2 linked regions of the Homo sapiens genome follow. The protein of the gene in region 2 purifies or fractionates together with the protein of the main gene of each other region. This does not show direct contact. Each region holds a gene or a part of one and is shown on either strand. Other genes may lie near its edges.

Region 1 (4,135 bases), on a different chromosome or scaffold from region 2:
TTACTAATTTGGTTCACACTGTGTCCTTCTCATGGATGTGAAAGTACCAATGAAATGTGGAGATCTCGATGTATAACAGTCTCCCATTCTCCTCATCCCTTATTGACTGCTGGGCAGTAGCTAACAGAGTAGTTGTCAAGTGGCGTATTTGAGGTGAGGGGGAGGGACGGGGAAGGTAGGAAAATGCACTTAATGTATATACATGTTTTTACTACTACATTGTATTAATTCATCGGGTGCCCAGACTGAAAGGTACCTAATGAACCATGGAGTTCCGGATGTATAACAGTCTCCTCTTTTCCCTTTCCCTTATTGCCCATGTGGGCAATACTTAAGAGTAGTTTGGGTTTATTGAAGATTTTTTGCTAGGAGAGAGAAAATTTTTTGCTAGGAGAGGTTTCAAGGTAAGAGTATATACTTTAAACATGTATATAAATGTTTTTGCTACTTTTCTGTCACTACCTTTCTTACCTTGTCCTTTACATGGATATATGAAGAAAATTGAGGTTCAGCCTGTAGCAGCTCTCCTCTTCTGCCCTTCCCTTAGATTGTCTGTGTGGGCAGGTGTCTAAGAGAGTAGTTGATTAGCTTCAGGGATTCTTTGGTGGGTGTTGGGGTATATACTTTTGTATATGTATGTACATATTTTTATTTCTTTATTATAGTGTTTCATTGGGTACCCGGTCCTTCACTTGGATGTGTAGGTTCCTAATGAGCCATGGAGTTATGGATGTATAACAATCTGTTCTCCCTTTACCCTTTTAATGTATATGGGCAATAATTTTAAAGTAGTTTGGATTTTTTTAAGTTTTGAGGGGTGGGAGGGGTCTAAGGCAGAATATATCCTTTTTAAAAATGTATATATACTTTTCATTAACTATATTGTATTATTTCATGCTGTACCCAGTCCATTGCTTGGACTTACGGGTACCTAATGAAACGTGGAGGTCCGGATGTATGAAAATCTCCTCTTTTCCCCTTTCCTTATTGCCTCTGTAGGCAATAATTATAGAGTAGTATAGATGGTTTTTCTTTTTTATCCATCTGCCTATCTCCAGGAGGATGGGGTGTGCACTTTTAGAAATGTATATAAATGTTCTTGCTCCTTTTTCCTGTTACTTCATTGTGTGCCAAGGCCTTTCCATGGATACTTAGGTACGTAATGAAAATTGAGGTTCATTCTATGAAAAAATCTCCCCTTCTCCCCTTCCCTTATTGCCTGTCTTGGCAATGGCCAGTAGAGTAGTTATTTAAGGGATTTTGTTTTTTTGTTTTTTTGTTTTTTTTTTGGTAGGGGAGGTGGGGAATTTCTGGGTTTGTCTTTTTTTTAATGTATATAAAAGTTTGCTAGTTGTTGTTATTGTTGTTCTTTCACTCTCAACACAGTTTTTTGTTTGGAGTTGTAGGAATCAAATGTAATGAGGGACCCAGACCCGAGAGTGTGGTAAATATTCTTTGCCTTCCTCAGAGCCTGTATACACAAGCAAGTAGTATGTGAGCACTACAGGGCTTGGGTTTTGGTTTTTTGCTTTTGAGGGTTTTAATGAGGAGTGGGATTGTTGAGAGGAAAAGGCAAGATATATAATTTTTTTAATGTATATAAATGTTTTGCTCCTTTTTGATGTTAACTTCATTTTGAATCTGGTCCTTTGTATGACCACTTAGGTACTTAATAGTAATAAAGTTGAGATTGACTCTATGAAAAATATCCCATACTCCCCATCCCTCATTGCCTAGGGGGCAATGGTAGAATAGATGTTTGGTTTCTTTTGGGGGTGTCTGAGTGTATATGTGTGTGTATATACACACAAGAACACACATATTTATATACTATACACACACATTTTAATGTATATAAATATTTGCTACATTCTGTGTGTTATATAATGTGGTACCCAGTCCTCTGCTGGGACATGGATGTACATAATGAAACATGGAGGTCCAGACGTATGATAACTCTCCTGTTTCCCTTCCCTCATTGCCTACAGGGGCAATAGTTTCATATCTTGGGTTTTTTATTGTTTAATTTTTTTTTATGGGGAGGGGTTCTTTGGGTGGGTAATAGTCAGGGGGAAAGGACAGTGTCTATACTTTTTAAAGATGTATATAAATGTTTCATGTTATTGGTTTTGTACCTAGTCCTTTGCATGGATATATAGGTACCTAATGAAAATCGAGGATCAGTGTATGACAAATCTCCCATCCTCCCCTTTCCTTATTGCCTGTGTCGGCAATAGGAAGTAGAATAGTTGTGTGTTGTTTACTTACTTGTCTGTTTTAGAGAGATTTCTATTTTTGGTAGGGGAATATTCTTAATATGTTTTCATATCTTTATTTCATTTTGTAGTCTTTTGCATGGCTATGTAGGGACCTAATGAAAGTCGAGTTTCATAATATGACAGCTCACTTCTTTTCCTACATATTTCCTCACTTAGCAGTAGCTAGTGTAGTTATTTTGTGGTTATTTTATTTCATTCTCTAGGATCTATTCCATTAAGGATGCAAGTGTGTAGATGCATATATATCATTTGCTTCTTTCTTCCGCCATTATTTTCCTTTAACACTTAGTCCCTTGCAAGGGGTCTGACTATACCTAACAAAAATAAAGACCTACTAAATCCCTGCCATCTGGCTGGAAGGTGTAGCAGTGTATTAATGTAACTAATAGCAACAGGTGTGCAGCAGATAAGACAGGAGAAGACACTCAGCTATGGTTGAGTTGTGAAAGCTAATTAGATCCAGCATTTCTTATGTTGATTCAGATTGAATGAGGTAGTGAAAAGGGACCTGTGCTTTTGTAAATTCTAGAAAGGCAAGAGGACAATATTGAATAAAGCTGTGTTTAAACTTCATTGCTCATATATCTTTTAGTAACTGGTAAACCGGCGAAGCTGATAAGCCAATAAGAGTGCTGTCTAGAACGCATTTGCAAACCGTTAAGAGTAGCTTCTTTTTGAGGCCTGGACTTCTGATTCATCTATAGAAGTCTATTATGATTCCATCAATTGCATAGCTTGTGTACCTGGTAGAAATTGTGTCTTGGAATGACCCTTTCGAGTTATTGACATGGCTCTGATGAATAGAACATGAGCCCCAAAACTAAATCCAAAAGGAATTTTCTATCTTTCATCCCCCACATGTGGCAAGACAAGTTGGCCCTTTCTTACCCAGAGGTCTTTTGTGTGACTGCATCTTTCTCCTCCGTTCTCCATTGTGTGCTTTCCATTTTGTCTTTAGTGCCTATACTGTTAGGTGTTTTCTTCACTGGCATTCACAAATTTAAGCCATTGCTGCCTCATTAGCCTTGTATTTTGTGTGCATATCATGTATCCAGACCTGTATGTTCGCTTTAAGCATTCTTATATCACACTGTCTCCTCATCTACCATATGGTAAATGTTAAAACTCCACATTTGTCTGCATCAGGGAAAATGCATGGGCACACATCCTCCCTCCCTCCCTCTCTGCTCTCCTCCCTTCCTTCAGGCCTCTTAGCATTGTTTGTTTTCCCATTTCTGATACTACTACTCCATGCTGAAGATTTGCCATATTACTATTTTGGAAACATTGAGTGATAGAACTCCTAGAAAATTTGCAAAGAAATGTTACATACTGTATATCAAACTCTCAGATTCTAGTGTTGAAAAAGTAGCCTATACTTTGCTATTACTTATACCTGCTGCCATAGAAAAAAATAAGTTTATTCATGACACATTTACATTTGATCATAAATAAAAGAAAAAAGGGCACCTTTTTGGAGTTAGTCATGGTAGTCATTAGTGATATTTCTGAACAGTTCTTAATTTAAAATACTTCAAAGGAAGTAAAGGTCATGGCTTAGCTGAAGGAAATGCTCCAGAAATTGGACTGTGTAAACCATCAGTACAATAATACGCTGTGTATGTATGTGTATATAAAATGAGAATTATGGCATAATTGGAGCATTTGCATTAATCAACAAACTCACATTGAGACAAAACTTAGTTTTACAGCTGTCTTGATTAAAGCCAAGTGTTCCATGTTGCTGTGAAGAATAGCCTCTTTCAAATACTTTGGAAAGTAGTTACTTGGAAACTTGTAAAGGTATTACATTTTTATATTTAAACACCTATAGAGATCTTCAATTCCTTGAGTCT
Region 2 (5,335 bases):
CCGGTCACCCCCAGAGCCCTCATGGACACACATGGATCCAAATGCCACAGCAGCCTTAGCTGGCCAACTTAAAACAACACATTTGTGCTTACAGTGTTGGAGGTCAGAAGGCTAAAATCAAAGTGTCATGAAAGGTGGCCAGCAGGACCGTGGAGCCTCTGAGGCAACAGGGCACTTTGGCTAAGGGCCACGTACTGGCTCCAGCTGGCAGGCAGTCTCGGCCAGCCAGGCTGAGCTCCCTACTCCTGGGGCCAGGCCTTGGTGTCCTCTGGTGATGCTGAGTCCAGAATGAGGCTGCCCACATTCTGGTCCGCAGGGCTCAGCTCTGCTTTGACTTCCAGGTAGGAAGAAGAGGGAAAGTCCCCGGTCTCTGGGCACAACCAGGAACAGAGAGCAAGTTCTGACTCAGCAGAGGGATTGATTTGTTCCATGCAAAGAGCTGCACTGTCAAGGCCGACATGGGCCAGAGGCTCAGCACATGGCATCGCACCCCGTCCTCTCAGAACGCTGCCAGCCAGGGACTCAGCACATGGCATTCCACCCAGTCCTCTCCAGAATGCTGCCAGCCAGGGACTCAGCACACAGCATTGCACCCAGTCCTCTCCAGAACACTGTCGGGTGGTGTTACTGCCCTGCCATTCAGAGGAGGGAAGTGGGGCACAGGCAGGTCAAGTGACTTGGCCAGTGTCAGAATTGCTAGTGTACAGAGCTGGGAGGCGAGCCCAGGCCCATGGGACCACAAATCCAACACAAAAATCCATCCTCCTGCACCCTACGGAGCAAAAGTAGGTCCAGTTGTTTTCCTGGGTTTCCTGGACACACGGATCTAAATTCCACAGCAGCCTTGGCTGGCCAATCTTAAAACAACAAATTTGCTTTCTTAATGATTCTGGAGGGCAGATGTTAAAATCATCGTGTGAGCAAGGTTGTTTCCTTCCGGAGGCTCCAGGGGAGAATCTGTTTCTTTTGCTTTTCCAGCTTCTAGAGGCTGCCTGCCTGCCTTGGCTTATGACCCCTCCTGCCATCTTTAAAACCAGCAGCTTTGTCTGGGTGCAGTGGCTCATGCCTGTAATCCCAGCACTTTGGGAAGCTGAGGCAGGAGGATCTCTTTAGCCCAGGAGTTGGAGACCAGCCTGGGCAACAAACTGAGACTGTGTCTCTACAAAGAATAGACAAAAATTAGCCAGGCATGGTGGTGCATGCCTGTAGTCCCAGCTACCTGGGAGGCTGAGGTGGGAGGATCGCGTGAGCCTGGGGAAGTGGAGGCTGCAGTGAGCTGAGATCATGCCACTGCACTCCAGCCTGGGTGACAGAATGAGATCCTGTCTCAAAAAAAAAAAAAAAAAAAAAACACAACAAACAAACAAACAAAACCCCCAAAACCAGCTTCTTGCTTCTGTTGTCACATCTCTTACCTCTGACTTTGATCCTCCTGCTCCCTTTTATAGGACCTTTGTGATTACATTGGGACCACCTGTATAATCCAAGACAATCTCCCCATGCCAAAATTATGCATTTAATCACATCTGCAAAGTCCCTTCTACAACATATTCACAGTTTCCGGGGATTCGAATGTGGATGTTTCTGGGGGGTCGCCCACTGATAACCAGTATTATAAGTTTCTTGTAAATCCTTCCAGAGATATTTTATCTATAAATAAATAAATGCAAGTCCATAGCCTTCCCCTACCCACTTTTTATGCAAATGGCATTATTCCATATCGGTGCTCAGAGTTTTCCTCTTTTTCTTTTTTCTTTTCCGTCTTCTTTTTCTTTTCTTTTGAAAGCTACACAGAACTTATTCTATTATATGGAAATACCCTAATTTATTTCACCTTTTCCCTGTTGGAAGACTTTTAGGCTCCTTCCAATGCTTTGCTTTATAATCCTTTGTGTTATAATGCTGCAATGAATAACCTTGTTTGTTGGATGATATTCAATTTAAAATCTCATTTTTCAGGACAGGCATAGTGGTTCATGTCTGAAATCCCGGCCCTTTGGGAGGCCAAGACAGAAGGATCACTTGAGCCCAGGTGTTCAAGACCAGCCCTGGCAACATATCGAGACCTGGTCTTTTCAAAAAAATTTGAAAATTAGTGGGGTATGGCTTGGTGGCCTGCACTTATTTGGTCTCAGCTGCTCGGGAGGCTGAGGTGGGAGGATTACTTGAGCACAGGAGGTGGAGGCTGCAGTGATCCATGATCACACTCCTCACTGCACTCCAGCCTGGGCAACAGAGTGAGAACCCATCTCAAAATAAAATAAAATAAAATAAATAATAAAATAATCTTGTTTTTCAGAAATTGGGGGTGCCATTTAAGACATTTTGAAACCTCACAGAACTTTTTTGGGGAACTTGTTGCCTTGGAGATTAGCCTGCCCTGTCCTGCCCCCATGACCTGTACTTGGTCTTTCTCCCTCCTGGCTTCCTTAGTTAAGCCTTGTGTGGACTTGCGAGCCCATGTCCATCACTCTCTGCCTTCAATTCTAGGTGCTGTGGTGTGAATACGCTTGAGTGGAGGCCGCATGCTTCCCAGGAGGGTGTGTATTTTCAGCGTTGTCTCTCATGATAGAATGAAAGGCTCTGGAGGGAATCACAGGCTGCCACAAACAGGCAAGGGGAAAAATCTTCCACAGACGTGTTTCAGGGACAACAGGCTTCCCAATCCTAGCCCATGCTGGCCCATAACTGGATCAGGCTGACTCTCCTTCCCCCACACCGCTGGTGTAGACAGGGACAAGAAAGAGAAGTCAGAGACACAGAGAAGCTGTGATTTGCTTGAGGTCACCAAAGTATTTAATGGCAGAGTTCAGACCTGACCTGAGGGGCAAGAAAAGACAACCCCCTCAAATCCATGGGGAGCAGAGACTATCTGGATCAGATCTCAGATTGCCTGGGGCTTTCACGGTGCCAGGTGTGTACACTGAGCTAGGATGGGTTTCCCAGGGTGCTGTGTGGTCACATAACTCAACAATACAGACCAGAAAGCAGTGACCAGTAGGCTGAATTTGGCTAGTGGGTGTTTTCTGTTTGGCCTACACAGTGTTTACTTTAACTTGTTATTATAGGAAATTCAAACATGCAGAGAGAATTGTACCATCAACAACACACACCCATCACTCTGCTCCAACAATGATCAACTCAGGCCTATCTTGCTTCATCCTGTACCCTCCCTCGCTTGCTTCTCTTCCCACCTTCAGATATGCGGAAGCAAATCCAGAGATTTCATTCCATTGTAAATATTTCATTGTGTATCTCTACAATGTGGGAATTTGGGGAGTTTCATTTGAGACAGGGTCTCGCTTTGTTGCCCAGGCTGGAGTGCAGTGGTGCAATCGTGGCTCACTACAGCCTCGACCTCCCAGGCTCAAGTGATCCTCCCACCTCAGCCTCCCAAGTAACTGGGGTTAAAGGTGTGCACCACCACATCTGGCCAATTTTTTTATTTTTTGTAGAGATGGGGGTCCCACTATGTTGCCCAGGCTGGCCTAAAACTCCTGGGCTCAAGTGATTGTTTTACCTCAGCCTCCCAAAATGCTGGGATTATAGATGTGAGCCACTGTGCCCAGTCAGGAACTTTTACATAATCCTTTTTGACAAAAGATTTCCCCCAAGAAATTAGAAAGTTTTACAAAAAAAAAAAAAAAAAAAAATTCAGGTTTCTGTCTCATCTTAAAAATTTGGAAGTTCTGCCAATACTAAGCCCAGATGGTAATCATTGGTTAGTGCTGAGAAGATGTTGACTTTTTAGATGAGGCGTGTGACGTCTACTTTGCCACAGTCCCCACCACTCCCTACCTGGCCATCTGACTCATACACATCACCTGCCTGGCTTCTTTAGGCATTTAATTTGTGTAGGAAATTGACCTAAAGGAGATATTAGAGAAGACATTAAAAACTTGAAGAATGTGAAAATCAGCCATGAGATAGAACTGTGCTTTAATGCAGGTTATAGAACCACACCGGATATGAGGCATTTCGGAATAAACTTTGAAGATTGGAAGTACCAGTTTGTGAATTTTGCTCAGAGAGACCAAGGTGGGGGTGGGTGACAGTGGTGAAGCGTCTCCTCTGTGCCAGTCTCTTCTACCACAGGCTTTTTCTCACAAAATCATCAATCATATGCAGTAGGAGAAACACCTTCCTATTTTACAGATGAGGAAACTGAGGCAAAGAGAGGTGAAATAGGCTTCCCAAGGCCACTCAGGTCAGGAGCAGCAGAGTTAGGATTCAGACCTGGAGTCCGCCTGACTCCAAAACGATGCATGCCTCACCATGGCCCATAGCTCCTTTAAAGAGGCGCGGAAGAGAGAATTTGACAAAGTGCTTGCCCACGGGGCCTGGGATGGGTGGGGAAACTACGCTGGGGCTCGGGGCTGCGGAGGGCATCTGGGAAGAGGCTCTGCTGAAGGTGGTCAGGAGGGCAAAGGTCATGGTGGCCATTGTTATATGGTGGTGGTGGGGAGAGGTGCATGCCTTCTTCTTGACACTCTCTGGTGACCCTCTCGGTGGAACCTGCAGACCCTTGATGGGTCCCTTTGTTCCCTTGGGCCTCCTGAGTCCCCAGCCAGGGCGCTGGGCACTTTGCTGGGAGCTTGGCATGGGGTCCAGCAGCCCCATTGCTACCTAGTTCCTTACCAGCCCAGGGCGTCTGCCTGCTACTTCCCTGCCTGGAAGGAAGGCCTTCCGCCTGGAGCGTTCCTGGTGTGGCCTCCGCTGCCTCTCAGACTCTCACACAAGCTCAGCTCCCTGTCGCGTCCTCTCAGGGCCAGGATTCTCCTTATCACAAGCTTAGACTGTCTGAGTAACTAATTGGATTTGTGTCTGCCTCCACACAGGACCCTAAGACCCGTGGGGCTGAGACTCCTTCTGTCCTGGTCACAGCTGCACCCTAGCCCCTCGCATGGTGCGGTCACACCCAGGCCAGCCACTGACTAGCCCCGAAGGGGAGCAAACAGGAGGCCGGCCACCTGACTGAGGCCCCATGTCTTCTCCCTGCAGGCCGTCCCCTTTTCTGGGACTATCCAAGGGGGTCTCCAGGACGGATTTCAGATCACTGTCAATGGGGCCGTTCTCAGCTCCAGTGGAACCAGGTGTGTGTATATGGATGGAAACGTTTCACTCCAGCCTCGTCCCTTAGTAAAGCCACTGTGCCTGTGAGCCTCGGTTAGTTCAAACAACAACATCCAAGCTCACGTGCCTGGCGCAGGGGAGACCCAATGCATCCTTAACCCATGCCACAGGACAGCACTCCACAGGCACAACCTGCACCCAGGGATGCCATTAACCTGGACTCCAGGATGAATGGGGCCCTGGGAGCTGAAGGTCTAAGGAA

Evidence for each region.
Region 1: the proteins of LGALS9B (region 2) and LNPEP purify together in Homo sapiens (affinity purification with mass spectrometry; one large-scale study listed by BioGRID and IntAct). This does not show direct contact.

What each region holds. Positions count from the first base shown.
Region 1 is NC_000005.10:97,033,135-97,037,269, forward strand, and holds part of LNPEP (leucyl-cystinyl aminopeptidase), read left to right. Parts: 3' UTR 1-4,135. UniProt on the Homo sapiens protein: Release of an N-terminal amino acid, cleaves before cysteine, leucine as well as other amino acids. Degrades peptide hormones such as oxytocin, vasopressin and angiotensin III, and plays a role in maintaining homeostasis during pregnancy.
Region 2 is NC_000017.11:20,460,110-20,465,444, reverse strand, and holds part of LGALS9B (galectin-9B), read left to right. Parts: intron 1-5,001; coding exon 5,002-5,093; intron 5,094-5,335.